7 linked regions of the Homo sapiens genome follow. The protein of the gene in region 4 purifies or fractionates together with the protein of the main gene of each other region. This does not show direct contact. Each region holds a gene or a part of one and is shown on either strand. Other genes may lie near its edges. The genes, in order: RAI14, RBM33, TMOD1, MYO1C, DEK, SPTBN2 and SDCCAG8.

The links.
Region 1: the proteins of MYO1C (region 4) and RAI14 purify together in Homo sapiens (affinity purification with mass spectrometry; one large-scale study listed by BioGRID and IntAct). This does not show direct contact.
Region 2: the proteins of MYO1C (region 4) and RBM33 purify together in Homo sapiens (affinity purification with mass spectrometry; one large-scale study listed by BioGRID and IntAct). This does not show direct contact.
Region 3: the proteins of MYO1C (region 4) and TMOD1 purify together in Homo sapiens (affinity purification with mass spectrometry; 2 studies listed by BioGRID and IntAct, with this or other methods). This does not show direct contact.
Region 5: the proteins of MYO1C (region 4) and DEK fractionate together in Homo sapiens (co-fractionation; one large-scale study listed by BioGRID). This does not show direct contact.
Region 6: the proteins of MYO1C (region 4) and SPTBN2 purify together in Homo sapiens (affinity purification with mass spectrometry; one large-scale study listed by BioGRID and IntAct). This does not show direct contact.
Region 7: the proteins of MYO1C (region 4) and SDCCAG8 purify together in Homo sapiens (co-immunoprecipitation; one study listed by IntAct). This does not show direct contact.

What each region holds. Positions count from the first base shown.
Region 1 is NC_000005.10:34,806,328-34,809,827, forward strand, and holds part of RAI14 (ankycorbin), read left to right. Parts: intron 1-136; exon of another isoform or gene 137-155; intron 156-1,472; coding exon 1,473-1,530; intron 1,531-2,256; coding exon 2,257-2,327; intron 2,328-3,500. UniProt on the Homo sapiens protein: Plays a role in actin regulation at the ectoplasmic specialization, a type of cell junction specific to testis. Important for establishment of sperm polarity and normal spermatid adhesion.
Region 2 is NC_000007.14:155,647,661-155,651,160, forward strand, and holds part of RBM33 (RNA-binding protein 33), read left to right. Parts: intron 1-3,500. UniProt on the Homo sapiens protein: RNA reader protein, which recognizes and binds specific RNAs, thereby regulating RNA metabolic processes, such as mRNA export, mRNA stability and/or translation.
Region 3 is NC_000009.12:97,539,666-97,543,165, forward strand, and holds part of TMOD1 (tropomodulin-1), read left to right. Parts: intron 1-3,500. UniProt on the Homo sapiens protein: Blocks the elongation and depolymerization of the actin filaments at the pointed end. The Tmod/TM complex contributes to the formation of the short actin protofilament, which in turn defines the geometry of the membrane skeleton.
Region 4 is NC_000017.11:1,486,187-1,489,686, forward strand, and holds part of MYO1C (unconventional myosin-Ic), read right to left. Parts: intron 1,487-3,500; exon of another isoform or gene 1,470-1,486; intron 1,044-1,469; exon of another isoform or gene 1,025-1,043; intron 946-1,024; exon of another isoform or gene 766-945; intron 1-765.
Region 5 is NC_000006.12:18,261,731-18,265,878, reverse strand, and holds the start of DEK (protein DEK), read left to right. Parts: upstream 1-1,348; 5' UTR 1,349-1,494; intron 1,495-1,665; exon of another isoform or gene 1,666-1,781; intron 1,782-1,882; 5' UTR 1,883-1,891; coding exon 1,892-2,036; intron 2,037-4,148. UniProt on the Homo sapiens protein: Involved in chromatin organization.
Region 6 is NC_000011.10:66,687,717-66,691,216, reverse strand, and holds part of SPTBN2 (spectrin beta chain, non-erythrocytic 2), read left to right. Parts: intron 1-933; coding exon 934-1,178; intron 1,179-1,273; coding exon 1,274-1,412; intron 1,413-2,036; coding exon 2,037-2,121; intron 2,122-2,367; coding exon 2,368-2,564; intron 2,565-2,905; coding exon 2,906-3,048; intron 3,049-3,137; coding exon 3,138-3,213; intron 3,214-3,298; coding exon 3,299-3,349; intron 3,350-3,500. UniProt on the Homo sapiens protein: Probably plays an important role in neuronal membrane skeleton.
Region 7 is NC_000001.11:243,259,041-243,262,540, reverse strand, and holds part of SDCCAG8 (serologically defined colon cancer antigen 8), read right to left. Parts: intron 1-3,500. UniProt on the Homo sapiens protein: Plays a role in the establishment of cell polarity and epithelial lumen formation. Also plays an essential role in ciliogenesis and subsequent Hedgehog signaling pathway that requires the presence of intact primary cilia for pathway activation.

The sequences.
Region 1 (3,500 bases), on a different chromosome or scaffold from region 4:
TTCATCCTAAGTACAGCATGGAAGTGTGAGGGGCTTTTAAGTAGACAGTGAGAGTCACAGTTTTAAAAGAGAATTCTGTTTCTTTAGAGAATTGATAAAAAGGGGAAAAATGCAGAACTGGGGAGACGTGCCAGGAGGCTACCTTAGCTGTTCAGGTGAGAAGACGCTGTCCTAGAAAAGGGTGTCGGGAACAAGAAAGGGAAGAGGGTAGAGTGGAGGCGAGTTTTGGAGAAAAAAGTTGACAGGGCATGGTGGTCCACTACATGTGGGGTGAGGAAGAGGGGTCGGGGAAGGGGGTGGAGGATGAGGAGGAATCAAAGCTGAATCGCTGGTTTCTGGCTCAATGTCTAGACTGATGATGATGCTGTTGATGGAGAAGGCAGTCAGGGAGGAGCAGGTGGGGCACGGGGGAGGGGAAGCCAGAGATTTTGGCTGGGCCTTTGAGATGCTAATAAGACATCAGAGCAGAGATGTGAAGTAGGCAGTGGGTTATCAAGCCTAGCGCTTGAAGATGACAACTTTTGTGTATGAGTAAGAATACAGGCCCTAGCCCAGCCTGTCTGAGTTTGAATCTTGGCTCTGCCATTTACTGCGACTTGAGCAAATTATCAACTTTTTTGTGCCTCCGTTTCTTCATCTGAAAGTGGAAGTAATGATAGTATCCACCTCGTGTTGTTAGGGGACATAAAGCAGTTCTTTGAACAGTGCCTGGCACGTGAGAGCTAATACTTACATAGCACTTATTGTTGTCACTGTTAGGACCTCCGCATTTGGGAGTCACTAGCGTTCATTCTTCTAGATGATATTTCAGGTTGTGGGTGTGGAGGAGCTTACCAGGGAAAAGAGCTTAGAGGAAGAACACTGAGGAGCCCTGAGGTTTTCTGTTTGGCTAGAGGAGGAGCCGCAAGAGGAAAAGCAGAATAAGATGAGCCAAGCAGGGCTCTAGGAGCTGAGAGGTTGGAGAGAGGAGGACAGAAATGTTTATCGTCATTGGAAACATGAAGGTTTTTGGTGACCTTGACCAAGGCCATCTCCTTGGACTCGAGAGGGGACACCCAACTGCAGTGGTTTTGGGAGTGAATGGAGGTGAGGGTGCGTGGACTGCATGTGGGTAATCCTTAAGAGAAAGCTGGTTTCGTGAAGGGGGACAGAAAGGGCAGGAGATGGGGGAAAAGAAAGGATTAAGATGAGAGAGCCTAGAGTATGTCTATTAGCTGGTGGGGTGCTGGAGTGATGAGGGAAGGAGAGGAACAGATAGGTGAAGCAGCAAAGAGGGGAGAGTTTGCCCATCCCAAAGACATGAGTCTCCTTCCCCATAGGAGACTGTAGGCCCCTGGAACACAGCAGCTGGGGCTTATTTATGTTAATAGTCTTCCTAATAAGTCACATCATACCTTGCAGGAAAAGTCTGAACTGAATAGAATTGGGGCAGGGTATTTTATTATATGGATGTATTTATTTTTGTCTTATAGTCTAAATGCCCAGCCGAAAGTGTCGACAGCTCTGGGAAAACAGCTTTACATTATGCAGGTAACTTTCATTCTCCTATTTGTCTTCTTCTGCCATTAGAAACACCAACTTTTCTTTTTCCTTATTCAGGCCATTAACCTTCCATACTATTCCTGGTGCTCTTTTCTGTCATCATTTCTAAACATTCCCATTTTACTCTGTTTGTAAAACATACACAGTTTTACCGAGGCATATGCCTAGAATTCATCAATTCCTTTGCCACCTAACCACTGAAAATTATCACGATTAATATATTTTAACTAATTTAAGGTTTCTTTTTAAACTAAGAGATATTCTAAGCATTTGTAGATTTCAGGTAATGTGTGATACAGACTTTTTGATTTGAGGATTATTATGAACATCAGTCAATTTTATTTACTAATATTTTGTTTAGTATGATTACACAACTTGAAGTGACAAACGTTGACACTGAACTATGAGTGATTAGATTTACACATGTGTTTTATTGCTAGTTGTGGAAAAGCTAAGTCCTGTGAAAACCTGAGCCAAATATTTGCCTAAAGGCAACTGGCAGTCATTGGCTTTAGGCCTGCATAACTCTGAAATTAAGCAGTAATTTTAAACACCTCACTCCTAACCTTCCTAATACCATTTCTCTTCAATGCAACTAGAGTGAATATATGTAGAGTGGGTAGAACATGAACATTTCCTTCCTGAAGTATCTGATACCCCTGGTTGTGAATAACTGTGTGATTGGCTGTGGTATTTATATTTTCCTTCCCCCAGCGGCTCAGGGCTGCCTTCAAGCTGTGCAGATTCTCTGCGAACACAAGAGCCCCATAAACCTCAAAGATTTGGTAAGTACCAGGTGGTCACTAGAGGCAGAGGTAGACATTGGTTTCTAGAGCTCAATGGGATACCTCTAGAGTCACTGAGACTTTAGACTAGCAGTCTCCAACCTTTTTGGCATCAGGGGCTGATTTTGAGGAAGATAATTTTTCCATGGATGGGGGTGGGGATGGTTTCAGGATGAAACTACTGCAGCTCAGGTCATCAGGCATTGGAGTGCACAACCTAGATCCCTCACGTGCTCAGTTCACAATAGGGTTTGTGCTCCTATGAGAATCCAGTACTGCTGCTGATCTTATAGGCAGTACTGCTCACTCGCCTGCCACTTACTCCCCGCTGTGCAGCCAGATCCTAACAGGCCACAGACTGGTACTGATCTGCAGCCCCTGGGTTGGGTACTCCTGTTTTAGACAACTAAGTATTGGGCAAATTCTATTGCTTTTCAACCTAGATTCTCTTCTGCAAAATGGATTTATGTATTACTCTTAACCCTTTTCCCATTTGCTCCAAGAATACTCACCAGTGGCGTTTGGGGATACAGCATTTACCTCAAGATAACTTTGCCACGAAATATCTCATTTTTATTATTATTATTTTCCCATCACTCTAGTGTATTGACTTTGGAAACAAAAGACATCATTCTGTTTATAGCATTCTGTTTTTAGTAGTGGTATTTCCATTTACAAAATGTAGTAATTCTCGACCACTGAAAATGTCAAATCCTAGAAAACGTAGCATTCCTATGTGTGATGTTAATATCGTTCTCAAAGAGATCTTGGCTGAAGATTCATTTGATGAATCCGATTTTTCTGAGACAGATGATTCTGGTGTTAGTTCTGTTTAGAAATAACTCCAAGAACAGTTTTTATATTTTATTTTCACATTGAAAATCAGTCAGATTTTCTTCAGCCTCAAAGAGTGTGTTTATATAAAATTAAATGAGCTCTGGCAGAGAGCTGCACTTTTTTTTTTTTTTCTAAACTGGGAAGAAGGTTAATTAGCTTCTAAAACATTAGTAAAACATTTTGCAGCATATATTTCCTATATAGGTATATTTATTTCTACGGCTATACATGTTTTCTACCATCAATGTAATTACAAATAAAGCTTAATTTCTTGATTTTTAAAAATAAGTCTAAATAGAAATTTTACTACTTTCTTTCTGCACTTGGATAACTTCT
Region 2 (3,500 bases), on a different chromosome or scaffold from region 4:
TGATCTGCCCGCCTCAGCCTCTCAGAGTGCAAGGATTACGTGAGCCACCATGCCTTGGCATGATACATTTCAAAGGAGTCATTTGGTATTGCAGCCAAGTAGTAAGGATAGAGAAATGGAATTGCTATCCTTACTAATAGCAGAGAGAATGACAACTGTTATTTATTGGAGACTGAAAACAAAAACATAAAGGCAAAAACATGGCATTTTGGGGAAGGAACAAATAGTTTAATGAGTTTCAAGATCTTCTAGTTCCAGTGCTTCCTTGTAAAATATAAAATAAAAAATCAGTACACAAATCGTAAAAAGCCTCCAACCTAGTGAGTGCGTTATCTCACTTAAGATTTACAACAGCATTCTTGGGCCTGAGCTAATCTGATTTTATAGGTGAGGTGAAAAAATGGGTGCTTGTAAATTTTTTGTTTTCTAGTCAATTCTTAGAAATAAAAAGTTTTAATGGGAAATTTCAAACACATCCAGTAGTAGAATAATGAACCCACATACCCATCACCTAGCATCAACATTCTGGCAATCTGTTTTCATCCCCCCACCTCCACTTTTGTATATTTCAAACAAATCCTAGGCTGGTAAAATTTTAGAGCAAGATACACTGCTGGGATGAGTTAAGACTTTAGATACTAAACCAGTTGCTTTAATTTACATTTGATAGTAAACTAGCCGAGAAAAGTTCAGCCACCTAGCTGTTAAGAAAGGGAAGTAGACTCGAATTCAGGTTTTTTGACTTCTAGTTCAGTGTTCCTTCCACTGTGTCAGTATGTAGTAAGGCAGGAAAGTATGAAGCATGGTGCAGAAGGTTTTCATTCGAAATTGTGAAAGTGAAACAAGTTTTAGTACTTCAACAGGTAAAATTTACCTGGTAGGAAATTTTTGGAGCATTTTAATCACTAATAGTGCTGATAAATGAGATGTTTTCATACTGATAATTATGTGTGTATTTAATTCTTTTTTTTTTTCCTTCAAGAAAATCTTTCATGCTTAATTTCTTAGCTTCAATCAAGAGAGTTTGAGGAGTCGGGAAAGAATAGCCTTTCTCATTTCAGCCATGAGTACTTTTAGCATTTCTTGTAGGGCAGGTGTACTAATGACAAAGTCCCTTAGGTCATACCTGGGGATATAATTTTTGAATGGCAGTTTGAAATATTTCATCCTATCACCTTCTGGCTTCCATCGTTTCTGATGAGAAATTGACTGTTAATCTTATGGAGGATCCTTTGTACATGACATGTCACTTCTCTCTTGGTGTATTCAAGATTCTCTTTGTCTTTGGCTTTTGATAGTGTGATCATAATGTGTTTCTGTGTGGGTCTCCAGATTTATCCTGCTTGGAGTGGTGAGCTTCTTGAATATGTAGGTTCATGTCTTTCACCAAATTTGGAAGCTTTTTATTTTTTTCTCCAGTTCTTTTTCCTGCTACTTTGTTTTCTCCTTCTGGGACTCCCATAATGCATAGATTGGTACTTTTAATGATGTCCCCGTTTTTTAAGGCTCTGCTTATTTTTCCTCTGCTCCTTAGACTGGATAATTTCAATATTTTCCTGTTTCCTCACCTATAGCACCCTTGTTTTCTTCAGAACGTTTATCTCAATTTGTAATTTTCTTTAGTTATTTACTTGTTTTTTAAATCTGCCTCCCACATAAGCCTGTAAGCCTCATGAGGAGAAAAAATGCTGTTTTACCATGCATTCCACATCTTCCTGGCACATAGCATGTGTTAGATATTTGGTGAATGAATTAAAGAATGACATATTTTCTGTATGAATCTGAAAAAATATAATTGTATCCTAATTTATGTTAGTCAATTCCACATGATTCACCTGTGTAACTGATTAAATCATGTTAGCTTGATTTTTTCGGTCCCTCAGTTTTGGGACTGAAAATTGGACATTTTAAATATGGTGATGTGGAAATTTTGGAAGTCAGAATGTCCCCCCCCTTTTCTGGGTTTGCTATATTTCTTGTTGTGGCCTTCAGTTGTCTGGTTTTTTAATGACTTGCCAAATGAAGAGACTCTATTCCTTGTCTCCTGTGGTCACTGATGTCTCCATTGTGTTGTATCATTGCCCAGCCAGTGATCTGATGGAGATGTCCTCAAATGGCTGGAGCTGCAAATAAAACAAAACCAAAACCAAAAAACAAACAAAAACTCCTGTGCTTACGTTACTTCATTGCTCATCCAGGCCACCTATAACCCCAACCTTAGCCTCACCTTCTGCATATGCGTAGCTCAAAGATCAGCCAGAGGTATAAATCTAGGGTTCTTTCAAGTTGTTTTCTGAGCATGTGCCCAGCCTTCAGCATATGCATGGTCTTCCAGATTTCCCATTATACATGGGAGCCCCCAACACTCTCATTCCTTCATATATTTTCCTCCTCAGCCTCTTCTTTCCCAGGCTTTTCAGTTTGTATGTTGCTAACCCTGGCCATCATCCCTTGCCCCAGGTGACCCTGGTTAGTGGATGTCTTTAAATGCTTTTGACAAGCACTGCCTGGGATGCCGCTCTAGCTCTGAGAGAGTTCTGAAGGGGTGGTCTCTGAGCTGATTCCTCAGCTCAGGTCACAATGCACAATCACAATTTTTTGAGGACAGGTTCTTATTGACCCCTTTAGCATCACTGCACCAGGAGCACTGACTGCCATCCCCAGTGCTGCCTCTGAGCTGTGAAACGCTTTCTCTGCATCTGTTGTGATTATGTGTTCTTCCCCTGTTCTTTAATCTCTTAATGTAATCTATTGATAGATTTCCAGTGCTGAACTAAGCATGCATTCTGGGGTTCAAAATCTTGATCTCCACATTTTGTTCTTTTTAATATATTGTTGGATTTCATTTTAGGATTTATCTCTGATCATAAGGGAGACTGACTTACTGTTTTCTTCCTTGGTATTTGTGTGTACATTTGTGCTATCCTTTTATTTATGATATGTTGGTTTTTAGAATGAGTTGTGAAATTTTCTGGGATGGTGTAAAAATCTGTTATTGACTGTGGAAGAACTCTTTTCTCCAGAGCCATTTGGGTCTGGTTCCCTTTAAAAAAGTTATCTTTTCAATTTCCTGTATTATTATTGATTTATTTAGTTTTATAAGATGAAAAGTCAATTACGATCATTTAAATTTTCCTAGAAAAATTATTCTTTATGTTCAGATTTCCACATTGATATAGAGTTAAGCAATGCCACAGCTTCTTTTTGTTGTTGTTGTTGTTGTTTTTGTTTTGAGACGGACTCTCGCTCTATCGCCCAGGCTGGAGTGTTGTAGTGGTGTGATCTCAGCTCACTGCCACCTCCACCTCTTGGGTTCAAGCGATTCTTCAGCCTCAGCCTCTCAAGTAGCTGGGATTACAGGCACATGCTACCACACCCAGCTGATTTTTGTATTTTTAGTAGAGACGGGGTTTTGCCACGTTGGCCAGGCTGGTCTGGAACTCCTGACCTCAGGTGATCTGCCCGCCTCGGCCTCCCAAAGTGCTAGGATTACAGGCGTG
Region 3 (3,500 bases), on a different chromosome or scaffold from region 4:
ACTTAAAGTGCACCATTCAGCCCGGGTGAGGTGGCTCACGCCTGTAATCCCAGCACTTTGGGAGGCCGAGGCGGGCGGATCACGAGGTCAGGAGATCGAGACCATCCTGGCTAACATGGTGAAACCCCGTCTTTACTAAAAATACAAAAAATTAGCCGAGCATGGTGGCAGGCGCCTGTAGTCCCAGCTACTCAGGAGGCTGAGGCAGGAGAATGGCGTGAACCTGGAGGTGGGGAGCGGAGCTTGCAGTGAACCGAGATCATGCCACTGCACTCCAGCCTGGGCAACAGAGTGAGACTCTGTCTCAAAAAAAAAAAAAAAAAAAGAAAAGAAAAAAAGAAAAAGAAAACAAAAATGCGCCATTCATTGGTTTGTTCTTTTAGCATATTCACAGAGTCGTATAACCATCATGATCAATTTTAGAACATTTTCATCACCTCAAAAAGAAACCTCATGCCCATTAGCTGTCACTCTCCATCTCCCTTCAACCTTCCCAGCTGTATTAACCTGTTTAGGCTGCTCTAACAAAATACCACAGACTAGGTGGCTTAAACAACAGAGACTTATTTTTGCACAATTCCGGAGGCTTAGAAGTCCCAGATCAGGGTCTTGAGGGGTTAGTTTCTGGTAAAGACTTTCTTGCTGGCTTACAGACAACAGCTTCTCTCTGTGTGTTCTCACGGTGACTGGTTGGGGAAGGAGGTGTTGCAGCAGCTCTCTGGTATCTCTTCTTATAGGGACACCAATCCTATCAGATCAGGGTTCCACCCTTATGACCTCATTTGACTTTAATGATCTCCTTACAGGCCCTGTCTCCAATTATAGTCACTCTGGGGGTGAGGGCTTCAACGTATGAGTTGGAGGCACACATTCCAGTCCATAACACCAGCCCTAGGCAACCACTAATCTACTTTCTGTCTCTACAGATTTGACTGTTCTGTACGTTTCATATATTGTATGGAATTGTATAATACATGGCCTTTTGTATCTGGCTTCTTACACTTAGTATGATGTTTTCAAGGGTCATTCACGTTGTAGTACTACGTTTTTTTTCACAGCTGATAATATTCAATTGTATGGGTATACCACATTTGTCTTATCCATTCATTAGCTGGTGAACATTAGACTTGTTCGTACTTTTGTTATTATGAATAATGCTGTTATAAATGTTCGTGTACAAGCATTTGGGTGGACATACATCTGCTGCATCATATGGTAACTTTATGTTTAACTTTTTGAGAAATTGCACAACTATTTTCCAAAAGGGTTGTATCATTTTACATTCCTACCAGCAGTGTATGAGAGTTCTAGTTGCTCTATATTCTCATCAGTACTTGTTATTATCTGTGTTTTTTTATTATTGCCATCCTGCTGGCTGTGAAATGGTATCTCATTCTGGATTTGATTTGCATTTCCCTAATGGATAATAGTATTGAGCATTTTTTCATGAGCTTTTTGGCCATTTTTATATAATCTTTGGAAAAATGTCTATCCAGATCACTTGCCCATTTTAAAAAATTTATTTATTTTTATTTTTATTTTTTTGAGATGGAGCTCTGTCACCCAGGCTGGAGTGCATTGGCACAATCTCAGCTCACTGCAATCTCTGCCTCCTAAGTTCAAAGGATCCTCCCACCTTAGCCTCACGTGTAGCTGGGACTGCAGATGTGCGCCACCATGCCCGGCTAATTTTTGTATTTTTAGTAGAGACGGGGTTTCGCCATGTTGGCCAGGCTGGTCTGGAACTCCTGACCTCAGGTGATCTGCCTGCTTCAGCCTCCCAAAAGTGCTGAGATTACAGGCATGGGCCACTGTGCCCAGCCACTTGACCATTTTTATTTTTTATTTTTTATTTTTTATTTTTTTTTTTGAGACAGTCTCACTCTGTTGATCAGGCTGGAGTCTAGCGGCGTGATCTCAGCTCACTGCAACCTCTGCCTCCTGAGTTCAAACAAATTTCATGTCTCAGCCTCCTGAGTAGCTGGGATTACAGGCATGCACCACCACGCCCGGCTAATTTTTGTATTTTTAGTGGAGACAGGGTTTCACCATGTTGGCCAGGCTGGTCTCAAACTCCTGACCTCAGGTGACCCACCCACCTTGGCCTCCCAAAGTGCTGGGATTACAGGTGTGAGTCACCACGCCTGGCCCATTTTTAAATTGGGTTATTTGTCATATATTATTGAGTTGTAAGAGATTTTTATGTATTCTAGATATGAAACTCTTATGAGATACATGATTTACAAATATTTCCTCCCAATCTGTGGTTTGTCTTCTCACTAGTGTCCTTCGCAGCACAAATGTTTTTAATTTTAATGAAGTCCAAGTAATCTACTTTTTTATTTTGTTGCTTATTGCTTTGATATCTTATCTAAGAAACCATTGCCTAATCCAGAATCAGAAGGATTTATGCCTATGTTTTCTTCCAAATGTTTTATAGTGTAGTTCTTATATCTAGGTCTTTGATTCACTTTGAGTTTTTATATATAATGGGAGATCACATGCTGTTTTTGAAAACGAGTTAAAGTGGTAAACAATCAGGAGTTTAAAAATATGCATCTATCTTTGGTTTTACTGACAATCATGTGATATTTTGTTAAACATACCATTTAATAGAAAGAAAACAAACTTTAACCTCTAATGAGGCTGATATTCTCAATATTTACTTTAAAAATGTGATAAGCTTAGAGTTATTAGAAAAGGCCTTTGACATTTTTGTTTTTACAAATCAACTGCTTTCAATAAAGACTTGAATAAATGAAGCCATATTTTTATGTTATGTAAATAATATTTTTGAAATACATTAAAAAATCTGTATTATATAACATGTTATAATTATATGGCTTTTTGTTTAATGCAGTGGCTCTCAATCAGGGGCAATTTTGCCCCTCAAAGGAAATTTGGTGGCTGGGCATGGAGGCTAATGCCTATAATTCCAGCACTTTGGGAGGCCGAGGCTGGTGGATCACCTGAGGTCAGGAGTTCAAGACCAGCCTGACCAACATGGTGAAACCCCGCCTCTACTAGAAATACAAAAATTAGCCGGGCATGGTGGTGGGCATCTGTAGTCCCAGCTACTGGGGAGGCTGAGACAGAATTGCTTGAACCCGGGAGGCAGAAGTTGCAGTGAGCCGAGATCACGCCACTGCACTCCAGCCTGGGCAACAAAGTGAGACTCCATCTCAAAAAAAAAAAAAAAAAAGGAAGAAAATAAAAGAAATGTGGCAATGTTTGGAGACATTTTTGGTTGTCACAACTGGGGGCAGTGCTACTAGCATCTAGGAGATAGAGAGCAGAAAGGCTGCTAAACAATCTCCAGTGGGTAGAGTGGCCTCCACAACAAGGAAGTGTCCAGCCCAGAATGTCAGTTGTGCTGAGGTTGAGAAACTCTGCTTTAACTAAATCCGTGGCCTCTACCAGATAGATTCGAAAAGAGATGAGAGTTTGCAAACCCTTCTCCCCTCAGTTACAACCCCTGAATTTCTTCTATCGCAATACTT
Region 4 (3,500 bases):
CCAATGTCCAAATACGGCCGGCGCGCCCGGCGGGCGGAGCGTTCTCCGTGCGGGACGCCGTCCACCCACACGCGCCGGGGCCTGGTCCGAGCCTCGAACCCAGGAAGATCTTGGTTTTCCTCGTCAGCACGGAGCTCGCGCCCCAGGGACAGGGACGGCCAACGGGTGCCCTGGCCGAGCGCGCGGAGTACCCGGCCCCTCTGGAGGGCTCAGTTCCCCCTCTGGGAAATTCGCGTCCCCCCCGCCCACGGCATTTGGGGCCCACAGCCTCTCCCCACCCGGGACACCCCACTCGCCTCTGGGCCCGGACCTCCTCCCTCCCTCCTTTTTTTTTCTGTTTTTTTTTTGAGACGGGGTCTTGCGCTGGCTCCCAGGTTGGAGTTCAGTGGCGCGATCTCGGCTCACTGCAACCTCTGCCTCCCGGGTTCTAGCGATTTTCCTGTCTCAGCCTCCCGAGTAGCTGGGATTACAGGCGTGCGCCACCACACTCGGCTAATTTTTGTATTTTTAGTAGAGACGGGGTTTTACCATGTTGGCCAAGCTGGTCTGGAACTCCTGACCTCAGGTGATCCACCCGCCTCGGCCTCCCAAAGTGCTGGGATTCCAGGCGTGAGCCATCGCGCCCGGCCCATCTCCCTCCCTGCTTTGAAGGGGGCCTCCCTAGTCCCTCCGGATCTCCGGGACGCCCCCCACCTCCGAAGCGGCCTCGGCAGAACCTCCCTCGCTTGGCTCTGCGGGCACCACCCTCCCTCGCCTGGGGCGAACCTTGGCTCAGATCCCACCGCGGGCAGGGGCGGGGACGTCTAGAGTCTGCAAAAGGCTGGGCTGGTTCTTCCTCGCGGTGGGACTCTGAGCAAGTCACTTAACGTTTCGGCTTCTGTTCTTCATCCCTAACATGAGGCTAACACAGGCCTAGAAGGGCCGTTGGGTGGCCTGAGATAGAGCGTGAAGGCACCTCCAGACCCCCTATAGACCTCGCTGCCCCCACCCGCCGCCTTCCCTCGGCCGGACGCTCATTTCTCACTTGCTTGCGGGCAGAGGCCTACTGAGAGCCAGGCCGTGGGCCACGCTTCCGATCCGGTGGGGAGAGCCTCAGGCGCGTCTGCAGGCACCTGCCTCCTCCACCAACACAACGGCGTACACAGACTCGCCCTGGTGGGGTTAGGCAGAGCGGGAACCCAAAGCCCCAGCGCCCCACCCCCAGCTCGCGGACCCCGCTCCCTGGGGAGAGGGCGAGGCTGCGGCAGGTGCGGGCCGGATCCTTGCGGGGAAGGCTCGTCACTGCAACAACCCGGCCGGAGCGGCGGCCCTGGGGACCCCCGAGCGGGGGCACCAGCTGGTGGGGGAGTGGGAGCGGGGGAGGGGGAATGGCGGCGTCTCGGACAGAGGCGGGGGAGGGCGGGAGGAGACGCCCGCTGCGGTGCCCCCAGGTTTAAAATCTAGAGGGAGGGCCGGGCGCGGTGGCTCACGCCTGTAATCCCAGCGCTTTCGGAGGCCGAGGCGGGCGGATCATCAGAGTTCAGGAGTTCGAGACCAGCCTGACCAGCATGGCGAAACCCCCTCTCTGCTAGAAAATACAAAAATTAGCTGAGCGTGGTGGTGGGCGCCTGTGTAATCCCAGCTGCTCGGGAGGCTGAGGCACGAGAATCGCTTGAACCCGGGAGACGGAGGTTGCAGTGAGCCGAGATTGTGCCACTGCACTCCAGCCTGGGCGACAGAGCGAAGCTCCGTCTCCAAACAAAACAGAACAAGGAAAATCTAGAGGGAGCAAGGAGGCGACCCAGCCTCCAGCCCGCCCAGGGGTGGGGAACGTCCTAGAAGACGGGGTAGAGGGTCAAGAGAGCCCCTCCCGGAAGCTCAGCTCTCTCCCTGCCCCGCGAGGCGTGGGGGACTCGGGCCGGGGGCGTGGCAGGAGCCAGCGGGGGCGCGGCCAGAGGACGGGGCGGAGCTTCGCGGCCGCAGTGTCCGCCCCGCCCCTCCACGTCACGCGGTTGGAATGAGGGGAATCCGCGCGCGGAGGGGTCGGGCCCGCTTCTTCCAGTTCCCGGGCCGCGCCGCCGCATTCCCGGGATGCCCGCTGGCGCCCCCGCAGCCACCGCCCGGCGGCGGAAGGAGGGGGCGTCTCCGCCGCTCGCGGGCCCCAGGGCGGCTCCAGCACTGGCAACCCCCGGCCTGCCCCTCCTCACTGGACGGAAGCGCGAGCCCCGGGCGGGGAGGGAAGCGGGGAACCTGGGTGGGAAAGACGCCGCGGCTGAGGCTGCAGCGCCAGGCGCCTCCTGCGTTCTCCGCGCTTTCTTGGGTTACTCCTTTCAGTGACGCCAGCCAAGCCGTGAGGTCCGTATCATCACTCCAATGCAGAAGAACTTGAGGCTGGGCAGGTGACTTGTGCAAGGTCTCAGGAGGAGTGGGACTGGAACCCGGGCACTGGAACACCTTACTGCAGGGCTGCCCTGAGCCTCTTTGTGCGGTTATCAGGGCTACCAGGGCTGTGACCTTCAGTGACACCGTTCAGGCCCCTGTCGGTGTCGTGTGATTCTATTATGTCACATGTGGGCTTTAGGAGTGGGCCAGGGCCTTTGGCTCTGGGCCTAGAGGTTCCCTGCAGGCCATGGCCCCTGAGTGACATAGGAGACTTCTTCCCCAAGGCTGCCTCTGGGTCTTCTCCCACCTGGGGAGGCATTTACTGGAACCACAGGGGATGGGGTGGCCCAGCAGACCTGGGCTATCTAGTGCCCTTCAGCTCCTATAGGCCAGGTGCCTACAAGCCTGACTTCTGCGGACAGCGGAAAGCTCAAATGTTCCCCCAGCCTAAGGGCACACAGATCTTGCCATGGGGTAGGGGTGTTGGGGGCTGGGAGGAGGTGTCATCTGAGGCACCCGGGACTGCTGCTATAAACCGATGTCCACTGAGCCCAAGGCAGCAGAAAGGCAGCCACAGCTTGTCTCACGGGTGGCACAGAGCAGGGCTTCAACTTCTGTTTATTAAACAAATCTTAGATCTGGGCCTGGCTGCCCACCAAGGACCGTTCCAGACCTCAGGGAATTGTTGTGAAGGGAAATGGGGAGGAGATAGTGGCGACTTAGGGTCTCTACCCTGATTGCTCACAGGGCCTTGGTCAAGGACTGTCCATTCTAGCTACACAACCATGGATCTTTGGCTGCCAGACACCTCTGCCTGGGGGGTCCAGCAAACGTGAACAGAGGCAAGGTGCAGTGAGTGGCTCACACCTGTAACCCCAGAACTTTGAGAGGCCGAGGTGGGAGGATCGCTTGAGGCCAGGAGTTCAAGACCAGCCTGGGCCACATAGTGGTGAGACCCCTGCCTCCACTAAAATTTTTTTAAAAAGTTAGCCAGGCATGGTGTGTGCCTGTGGTCCCAGCTACTTGGAAGGCTAAGGTGGGAGGATTGCTTGAGCCCAAGAGGTTGAGGCTGCAGTGAGCTGTGATGGTGCTACTGCACTCCAGCCTGGGTACCCCAGAAGACCCAGTGTCAAACAAAC
Region 5 (4,148 bases), on a different chromosome or scaffold from region 4:
GTCGGGACAACCCCCCTGCAGAAAGGAGCAACCCACTTCAGGTCTCAGGAGAGCTGTTCTGTCCCTCAGTGAAGCTCCTGTCCACCTTGCTCACCCTCCAGTTGTTTGCGTGCCTCACTCTTCCTGGACACAGGACCAGAACTCAGGACCTGCCAAATGGTAGGATTGAAAGAGCTGTAACACAAATAGGGGTGAAACACAACCCCCCACTCCCAACCACGTTGCAGGCAGCAAGAAGGAGAGATGAGCTGTGGAGTGTGGATAGGATTTGAGTGGGATAAATAGTGTGGAAAATGGCATACCGTTTGAGGGTAGAAATGACACTATTCGCGTATGTTTTGGAAGGGGAACAAAAGGAAAAGGGAAGATTCAAAGGAAATGTCTAATTTTTGTCCTGCAACCCAGAGTCCAGGCAAATTTCACTGATCACATTTCTATTAAGTCCACTGAGTACAAGGATCCTTCAGGTGAGCTAGTGGTTGAAGAGTTGGGAGAAAATAAAGGAAATCACATACAAAAGAAGGCAGCATTGAGCAGGGAAGATACTGCTTTGAGTGTCTGCAGTGTTGAATGTGTAAAAAGCATCTGCATAGATGACCTAGAACTCTGGGAGAAGGGTCTGGACCCGGCCAAATAACATATTTCCTCTATTATAAAACAGAGAGTGTGTGTGAGAGAGGAGAGGAGAAGGAATGGGGTGGGAGGGAGCCTCTCCCCTTATATTTACAGGGGTGTAAATCTATGTGGCTGGCTATGTGAACCTTTAACGTGGCAGGTAGGATCTTTTTCCTTTCGGTGCACCTTACAAGCGATGCGGTCCTCAGAAATACAGATTTGGGAGTTATCTATCACCCAGCATGATTTCTGGAGCATTGATGAGACCGCTGATTAATTCTCCTCCGCCTCAGAGTAACACTGTCGATAGCGACTTCGGAGATCTCTAAACTTCTTTACCGCGCCCGCCGCGCCCCTCCGCGGCCCGGGACTGCTCATCATCTTTTCCAGGAAGCGACCGTGGAAACAATAAACACGCAGGCCCCCTAGCGTCCTTCCGTTCCGCGCTGCCAGGCCGCCTCGCCTCCCGCTCCCGCCCGCCCCGCGGGACACAGCCCGCCCGCACTCCGGGGCCCGAGCGCCGACCACACTCCAGGCGCAGCCGGGGAGAGCCCCGCGCGCGCATCCCTCCGCCCGCGGCCGAGGCGACCCCTCGCGGTCCCGCCCGCCCGAGCTTCCCGCGGAGGCACCCGGCCGCCCCGCCTCCCCCGCCCCGCGCCCGCCAACTCCCAGCTCGCGGCCCTGATTGGTCGCCGCATTCCCGCTCTCCTTCCCGAACCGCCATTTTGAAAATCTTGTTGATTCTGGGGAGCCGAGCGCGCGGCGCGAGCGTCACGCCAGACAGCGGCCCGCGCGCCTTCTCCTCGGCGTCGGCCGCCGCCGCCTCCCAGAACCTCCTCGTGCCCTCGCGTGCCAGGCCCGCGGCGGCCGAAATCCGCGGTAAGGGCTGCTTCGGGACGCCGGAGGCCCGGTCGCCCCTGCCGCGGCCGACGGGGGAGGGACGCGGCCATTTGGACGGCGGCCTGGGGCGGGGGAGGGGACGTGGAGGGCCGGCAGCTCGGGCCGGGCCGGGAACAGCGCAGGCCGGGCGGGCGCGCGCGCACGCGGGGCAGCGGGCGCGGTTTCCCGCCTCGGGAATCCCTGGACGGCGGCGGCGGAGCGGGAGGGAAGCCGCCCCTGGGGACTGAGCGCTGCGGTCCCGGCTATGGGAGGAGGCAACTTTCAGGGCAGGTGTCCCGCGGGAAGGGTAGCATCATTCAGGGTGGCCGCCCGGTCCTGCCTGCGGGAGTAGGAGGACCGAGACGTCCGGCTTTCTTCCCGCATGCAGGTTCACAGCATGTCCGCCTCGGCCCCTGCTGCGGAGGGGGAGGGAACCCCCACCCAGCCCGCGTCCGAGAAAGAACCCGAAATGCCCGGTCCCAGAGAGGAGAGCGAGGAGGAAGAGGACGAGGACGACGAGGAGGAGGAGGAGGAGGAAAAAGGTGGGGGGAGTCGCATCCCAACTGATGAATTTTTCAGACCGAAGTTTTTTTGTATTTTTCACCCAGGAAACAGTTTTCTTGCTCTTTTGGTGTTTAGAGGCGTGAAGTCGGAGTGATTTTCAGCGAGAATGTGTGCACAATTTATCTGCTTTTGTTTTGAGCGATGGCGTAGAATTGACTTTGTGTATTCCGGTTTTTAAAGTATTTGTTAGCGTGGTAGAGATGTATTGGAGTGCAGCCGACTTCTCGTCCGCTCTAAACGTTCGTTAACATTTCATCATTTGACGGGAAGTTTGTAGGTCTTGGATTTGATTTTTTTTTTTACCTGTGTGTGTGCACCTTTGAAGTTGCTAAGTGGATGTTCTAATTTTGTCCTTTTCATTACACATCTTTTGCCTTTTGAAGTTATTGTAAGGTCTTGGTGCAGCCCGTTAAGACTGAAGTTATAAGGCTAGACCCGGAAGTATTTGAATACTTTCGAATATTTTTACATTTACCAAAAAGTTTCCCTCCCTGGCAAACAGCGGTGAAAGCTGTTGCTACTTGAGAAAGTAGTTAAAAATGAAGAAAGTGAACTCTGAAAGAAAGTTAAATGTGAGCCCAGCACTGTCTCGGTTTCGAACCTGTGTCTGTTTTAAGGGAGGGCGATATGAGCCCTGATTTGACTGGAGGTGTGAAACGGAAACTTGACTGAATAGAGGAGTGTGCTGCGGCAGTTTATCCAGGATGCATGCAGTGTCTGTTTCAGGTGTACCCGCTTCTTGACATGTTTCCAAACATTTAAAAATCCGAGTCGCATCTCTTAGCATTCTTTGATATTAGCTTAGTCTGCGGTTATTTCGTATATGTTTACGACTCAGCCACACTTGGGAAGAGGTTGAAGCGCTCTTCCTAAACCCGGATTTTTTTTAAGCCTCAACCAGCCTGTGGTCACAATCTGGGTTAAGATTACAAGGTGTGCCTTTTGTTTGTTTAAAGTGGTATGTGCCCTAAGAAGGGCATATTTAAGTAAAGCATGGCTTTTTAAATATAAGTTTTCACATAAACTATTGCTTAACAACATGTTATTTTAAAATTATTTTTAATACAACAACAAAATTGGCTGCACTATCTCGCTGCTAGCCAAAGAGGCTCTGCACTTTTTCTCCAATTTTTTGTTTGTATTTTGGTCTTCTGGTGGGGGCAGGGTTGAGATGCCAAAGAAATGGTGAATTTTCTTCATGTCAGGAAAAAATTAGAGAAGTCATGTAAATATACTGTAAGTGGCCAACACAGTAATGCTTGGGGAAGAGTTGGTAGTTGAAAGAATCCCATGTTTTGTTCTAGACAAATTATTTTTAAAAACATGATGTTGTAGAAATTTTATCCCCTAATAGTTTTATTGTAGCTGTGATTTATTATTCTTTTTACTAATTTGAGGTGTTTGTGGGACAAGTAGAATTGTGAAAGTTTTTATTTTACTTAACCCTGAATATTTAACTTTAGAACTGAGGCATCATGGAAGCCAGACAGTGAAATACTTTCTGTATTAGGCTTTTTTTTTTTTTTGCGTTACTATAAAGAAACACTTGAGGCAGGGTAGTTTATAAAGAAAATAGGTTTTATTGATTCGTGGTTCTGCAGACAGTACAAGAAGCATGGCGCCAGTATTTGCTTCTGGTGAAAGCCTCAGGAAACTTCCAATCATGGCAGAAGACAAAGGGGGAGCAGGCATTTCATTTGGGAGTGGGAGCAAGTTGTAGAGGGAGGTGCCATGCTCTTTTAAACAAATCTTGAGAGAACTCACTCACCACCACGGATTACCATGCTAAGCCGTTCATGAGGGATCTGCCCCCATGATTTAATCACCTTACCAGGCCTCACCTCCAGCATTGCAAATCACTTTTCAACACGAAATTTGGAGGGGGCAAACATCCAAAGCATATCATTGCACCCCCGGTCCCCCAACTCTCATATGTTTCTCACATTTCAAGATTCAGTTGTGCCTTCGCAGTAGTCCCCCAAAGTCCGGTCTTGTTTCAGCATTAACACAGAAGTCCCAAATCTGTAAGTCCAGAGTTTCATCTGAAGATGAGTTTCTTCCACCTATGAGCCTGTGAGATCAAAAACAAG
Region 6 (3,500 bases), on a different chromosome or scaffold from region 4:
TCCCAGGAGCTAGGGTAGAGCTCAGAAATGCTGGGAGGACGGCACTCTTTCGAGGGCCATTTCGAGATGAGGAAATTGCTCCAAGAAAACATCTCTGTTTGGCCAGGCGCGGTGGCTCTCGCCTGTAATCCCAGCACTTTGGGAGGCCGAGGAGGGCGGATCATCTGAGATTGGGAGTTCGAGACCAGCCTGACCAACATGGAGAAACCCCTTCTCTACTAAAAATACAAAATTAGCCAGGCATGGTGGCGCATGCCTGTAATCCTAGCTACTCAGGAGGCTGAGGCAGGAGAATCACTTGAACCCAGGAGGCGGAGGTTGCAGTGAGCTGAGATCCCTCCACTGCACTCCAGCCTGGGCAACAAGAGCGAAACTCCGTCTCAAAAAGAAAGAAAACATCTCTGGCAGGGGACATCTAGCCACTGCATTCACACTTTTGATGACAAGCCCCCTTGAGAGCCCATGATGTCTTCAGGGGTTCCCAGTGGCCAGGAGACTCTTCATGCTGCGCTAAATCAGCCTGTTAGTGCTTCCCAGGCTTGAGCTCTAGGCTCACACTCAGTAAGCATGGATCCTTCCTTCAACCACTAGAACCCATCAGCCCCTGCCTGAATCCCCTTTTCAGGCTAAGTAGCACGTTCTAGCAATCTCCAAGGTCTATCACATCCTAGACAGGCCTCTGAAAGTTCAACTGGCCAATGGCTCTTTTCCAGATCCTCCCCCAGTTAAGCCCAGGTGTCTAGATGAGACCCAACAGGGCAGAGTGTGGCCAGCCCCTGCCTTCATCTTTCCCAGCACCCCCACTCCCTGGCTCCTCCCCCTGCTTCTTTGGCTGTGAGACAGGCAGGAGGTGAGAGTGGCAGCCAGGACTGAGGCAGGCTGCGGCTCCTTGGAGTCCCCCGCTCTGCCTGACTCTGACCCGGGGCTCCGCAGGTCCAGCAGGTGCAGGACGACGGCCACCGGCTCCAGAAGGCCTACGCTGGAGACAAGGCTGAGGAGATCGGCCGCCACATGCAGGCCGTGGCCGAGGCCTGGGCCCAGCTTCAGGGAAGCTCTGCCGCCCGCCGGCAGCTGCTGCTGGACACCACAGACAAGTTCCGCTTCTTCAAGGCTGTCCGGGAACTGATGCTCTGGATGGATGAGGTCAACCTGCAGATGGATGCCCAGGAGCGTCCCCGGTGAGAATCCCAGGGCTCAGGGCCTCCACGGGTTGTGTGGCTGGGCTGTGATGGGGCTGTGGGCAGCAGGTGATGCTGTTTCTGCCTCCCCCCAGGGATGTGTCCTCCGCGGATCTAGTCATCAAGAACCAGCAAGGCATCAAGGCAGAGATAGAGGCCCGGGCAGACCGCTTCTCCTCCTGCATCGACATGGGGAAGGAGCTGCTGGCCAGGAGCCACTATGCGGCCGAGGAGGTGGGTGAGGCCTGGGTGGCCGGGCCATTCTCACTGTGCAGTGCTGAACGCTGACTTCTTGGTGGCTTTCTGCTTCCTCTCATTCTCTCTTTGCAAGAAACCTTTCATTCTCTCCCCTCAGTGCCATTCACGGGTTTCTCGCATTCTGGAAATCTCTCCCCAGAACCGTCTGCCTCTTGACATCAGAAATCACTGGTCCTGGGCCAGGCATGGTGGCTCACGCCTGTAATCCCAGCACTTTGGGAGGCCCAGGCGGGCAGATCACCTGAGGTCACGAGTTCGAGACCAGCCTGGCCTCCATGGGTTGTGTGGCTGGGCTGTGATGAAACATGGTGAAACCCCGTTTCCACTAAAAACACAAAAATTAGCCGGGCGTGGTGGCGGGCACCTGTAATCCCAGCTACTCGGAGGCTGAGGCAGGAGAATTGCTTGAACCTGGGAGGTGGAGGTTGCAGTGAGCTGAGATTGCGCCACTGCATTCCAGCCTTGGTGATAAGAGCGAAACTCCGTCTCAAAAAAAAGAAAGAAAGAAAGAAATCACCTGTCCCCCTGGATGACTCCCCAGGGGCCGTGGAAAGATCTCACATCCTGGTGCTAACTCATATCTCTGCCCCCCGCCCCCAGATCTCAGAGAAGCTGTCTCAGCTGCAGGCACGGCGCCAGGAGACAGCTGAGAAGTGGCAGGAGAAGATGGACTGGCTTCAGCTGGGTGAGCTGCCAAGGGGGCCCCAGGCCCTGTGGGGAGTGGGGGGCATCCTGCACCCTGTGGGTTCCAGAGTAGGTGAGACTAGGAACCCTGGGTGTGAAACTCACGATGCCCAATCTTCGTGCTGCCTGGCACAGCTCTGGGGCAGTGGCTTTCTCTGTGTCCCTGTTCTTGAGGTTGCCATGGCCACTGTGCCCTGCCAGTGGCCACTCTGACCCACCATCTTCCTGCAACCCCCGATCCTGCCAGTTTTGGAGGTGCTTGTGTTTGGAAGAGATGCAGGGATGGCAGAGGCCTGGCTCTGCAGCCAGGAGCCACTGGTGCGCAGCGCTGAGCTGGGTTGCACGGTCGACGAAGTTGAGAGCCTCATCAAGCGGCACGAGGCCTTCCAGAAGTCAGCAGTGGCCTGGGAGGAGCGATTCTGTGCGCTGGAGAAGCTTACTGCGGTGAGGGACACAGGACCCCGGATGCCCACTCCAACCTGCTCCCCTGACCTGTGCTGGCTTCTGCTTGGAGAAGACATGTCTTCTCTCTTCCCACTGCACCAGTGGCCCCCAGATGTGAGCTGAGAGTGCCATTGTCACCACACCTTTAGGAGGTGTCAGTTCCCCTGGGTGATGCCGAGACACCTTCTCCCGCTTTGTTTCTTGTCCCCACCATCTTCTCAAATTCTGTTCTCCTCTTATCATATTTCATCAAATTAGAGTTGAGACATTTCAGCTCTCCCTGTTTCCCTGGCCCTCTTACACGCAACCTTCTACACGCTGAATGCAGCATTTTTTGACAGCTAGAGGAGCGGGAGAAGGAGCGAAAGAGAAAGAGGGAGGAGGAGGAGCGGCGGAAACAGCCGCCTGCTCCCGAACCCACAGCCAGTGTGCCTCCAGGGGACCTGGTGGGCGGCCAGACAGCTTCTGACACCACCTGGGACGGGTGAGAGCCAGGATGCCTGGGTAGGAGGAGGCGGCTGAGCCCAGGCCACCCAGGGACTAATGATTCTGTGTTGCCTTTGGTCATCCCAGAACCCAGCCACGGCCACCACCATCCACACAAGCACCCAGTGTTAATGGAGTCTGCACAGATGGAGAGCCCTCACAGGTGACCCCACTGTCCCTCTGTGCCCCCATCGGAGTCGTAGCCCCTCCACCCCCGCACATCCTTTTACAGATTCTTGTCCTTGCAGCCCCTGCTGGGACAACAGAGACTTGAGCACAGCAGCTTCCCCGAAGGGCCGGTGAGTTCCCCTGCAAGTGTGGTGTTGATAACTGTGAGGCGAAGGGTCCAGAGGGGGTGGTGAGTGCGGGTGGGGGAGTACTGGGGATGGGATGGGAGAGGGCAGAGGCTCACAGGCAGCTTGGGGGCAGGAAGACCAACTCCTGGACACG
Region 7 (3,500 bases), on a different chromosome or scaffold from region 4:
TTTTCTGGTTGCTAAATCCTGTCTTTTGCCAATTTTATCTCATCAGTAGTAGGAAAGAAAAATTGAGATTGTACTTTTAAGTTCTAGTAAAATAAAAGATCATAAAAGTTAAAGGCACTAAGAAGAGCCACATGAGGCCAGGCACAATGGCTCATGCCTGTAATCCCAGCACTTTGGGAGGCCAAGGCAGGTGGATCACTTGAGGCCAGGAGTTCGAGACCAGCCTGGGCAACATGGTGAAACCCTGCCTCTACTAAAAATAAAAAAATTAGCCGGGCGTGGTGGTGGCACCTGTAATCACAGCTACTCGGGAGGCTGAGGCAGGAGAATCGCTTGAACTCAGGAGGCAGAAGTTGCAGTGAGCCAAGATCACATCACTGCACTCCAGCCTGGGCAAAAGAATAAGACCCTGTCTCAAAAGAAAAAAAAAAAGTCGGGCACCGTGGCTCATGCCTGTAATCCCAGCACTTTGGGAGGCCAAGGCAGGCAGATCACCTGAGGTTGGGAGTTTGAGACCAGCCTGACCAATATGGAGAAACCCCGTCTCTACTAAAAATACAAAATTAGCCAGGTGTGTTGGCACGTGCCTGTAACCCAGCTACTCGGGAGGCTGAGGCAGGAGAATCGCTTAAACCTGGGAGGTGGAAGTTGCAGTGAGCTGAGATTAAAAAAAAAAAAAAAAGAAAAAGAAAAGCCACATGAATATATAAAACAAAAGATGAATATGTATAATTTGAATTTTATCAGCAAAAAACCCCTCATGTTTATGTGTGTATATTCCTATATAGTGCATATGGCAAACAATATTTAAAAATCCAGAAAATATTTGAGAAAAGCAAAAAAGAAATACAAGTTTTATAAGAAAACAGGAATACTTATTTGAGTTACACATATGTTTTCTTAAGACAGCCAGATGATATCACTGCTGGCTAATACACTGACCAAATTGTTGGCTAGTAAGACTAACACAGCCCTTCTACAATTGTGAGCCACTTTGCAGGATTTGGATAGATGTGCTAATCATATACAAGCAAAACATAGAAAGTCAACCTTATCTTTGGTTTTCTTGAACTACATCAATTCGTAAAGACAAGGCCCATCCCTGAGATTATATATTTTCTTCTCATATTCATCCTCTCACTTTCTGTGTACCTGGTTCAACTCCTTACTCTCATTTCCATAAGACAAAAACATAGCCCTTAATCATTCATCTGGTCCAAACAAGTGCTGATGGAAGGAACATTAATGATCAAAGGGTCAGAGAGTGGTGTCTAAAGGGGAATCAGGCTCTGGGTGTGTTTTGCTTGGCTTCCTTCTTGGAAGAAAAGAGGGAGGAAAAGAGGGAAAAAGAGAGAAGAAAAAAAAGGAAGCAAAGAGGGAGGGAGCAAGGAAGAAATTGAAATGTTTTTAGAAAAAGCAGAAACTGCCCAATTTGGCCATAAGCCTCATCATTTCCCTTAATGTCTTCCACTGACTCCATCATACCTTTTGATCATTTGCTTGGCACCTAAAGGCAATAATTCTCACATCCAGTCCAAACTTTTCGTTTTACAGTTGAGGAAACGGGAATCCAAGAACAGTGTGTTTCACTTGCCTAAGGTTACCCAGATGGTTGTCAGCAAAGCAAAAGTAAGTGCAGTGACCTGGCTCCCAGCTCCACATTCTCTCCTCTGACCCCACCACACTCTTCCCATAAATTCATCTAAAGGCTGAAACACCAAAATGTTGACAGAAAAAGGTAAAACCAGAATGCAAAATGTATATAGAAAATCATGAGTTCCTGTCATACAAGAAGTTTGTTTCATTTTTCCTTATACTCACCCAACCAAAGGTGGCTAGGAATGAGGTGAATAGGTGAGTCATGTATACAGGTGTTGTTGATAAAATTGTTATCTATTCCCAACGCTGCAGCAAGAGATGAGACATGATTCTGTTATTAAGGCTAAAATACTGCATTTCTAGCAATTTTTCTCCTTTCTGATATCCCCTTACACTCAAGTGTGCAGTACTTAAAATAGAGCCTGGATTGCCTATAATTGTGGCTTTTTTCACCCTTTCTTGGCTATGAAATAGTTCATTTCATACCTCTTGGCTTTATACAACGATGTATTGAATTTAGAGAAGGCGCATGTGCTATCTTGCCCACTTACAAATGTAGTTCTCGGCCATTCTGTGGTTGTTGAATTATAACTACCCATAGAGTAAATGAACACCTAACCTTACTGCCAAGAGACCTCCCAAATCACTTCCAGTTCTAGATTAAATTCTGTGGTTCCCAGGATACCCAGGACACATACACTTTTAACCACACTGGAAACTTTCAGACCATTTACTATGTAGGAATAATACAACAGATCTGTGGGGGCAACAAAGCCTTCCGGTTTTTCTGCCAGAACTCTCGTTTTGAAGAAGAATCATTAAATGTCTCCAATTTCTTGTAAAAGGGCATAGGCGACCCAAAGCAAGAGATATCTTTAGAGAAGTCAAACAGCAAATCCACTGAAAAGTGTAAGGGAATGGATGAAAGGTGAATGTGGAGCTGCTCCAAGATCATCAAGGTCAAAATGAGGCAAGGATCTCATTTTAAAAGCAAGAAAGTAAACGCTGACTCAGTTTTCACATTACAACTTCAAATTATTGATATACCATAATAGTACCAAAATTAAAGAAATGAGGAAAATATCTTTTTTTGTTTGTTTGTTTTGGAGATAGGATTTCACTCTTGTTACCCAGGCTGGAGTGCAGTGGCGCGATCTCAGCACACTGCAACCTCCGCCCACCGCAACCTGCGCCTCCCAGGCTCAAGCAATTCTCCTGCCTCAGCCTCCCGAGTAGCTGGGGTTACACGCGCCTGCCACCACGCCTGGCTCATTTTGTATTTTTAGTAGAGACAGGGTTTCTCCATATTGCTCAGGCTGTTCTCGAACTCCAGACGTCAGGTGATCTGCCCGCCTCGGCCTCCCAAAGTGCTGGGATTACAGGCGTGAGCCACCGCGCCCAACCTCATTTTAAAAACAAGAAAGTAAATGCTGACTCAGTTTTCACATTAGAACTTCAAATTTTGATATACCATAATAGTACCAACATTAAAGAAATAAGGAAATTTGTTTTTGTTTTTGTTTTTGTTGTTTTTTGAGACAGAGTCTCGCTCTGTCGCCCAGGCTGGAGTGCAGTGGCGCGATCTCGGCTCACTGCAAGCTCCACCTCCTGGGTTCATGCCATTCTCCTGCCTCAGCCTCCTGAGTAGCTGGGACTACAGGCGCCCGCCACCACGCCCGGCTAGTTTTTTGTATTTTTTTTTTTAGTACAGACGGGGTTTCACCGTGTTAGCCAGGCTGGTCTCCCATCTCCTGACCTCGTGATCCGCCCGCCCCAGCCTCCCAAAGTGCTGGGATTACAGGCGTGAGCCACCACGCCCGGCCCCAGGAAAAGATCTTTTTAAAATGGAAGTACGATCACGGAAAATAGGGAAAGCATTTTGCATTTTTATGCGGCCACTT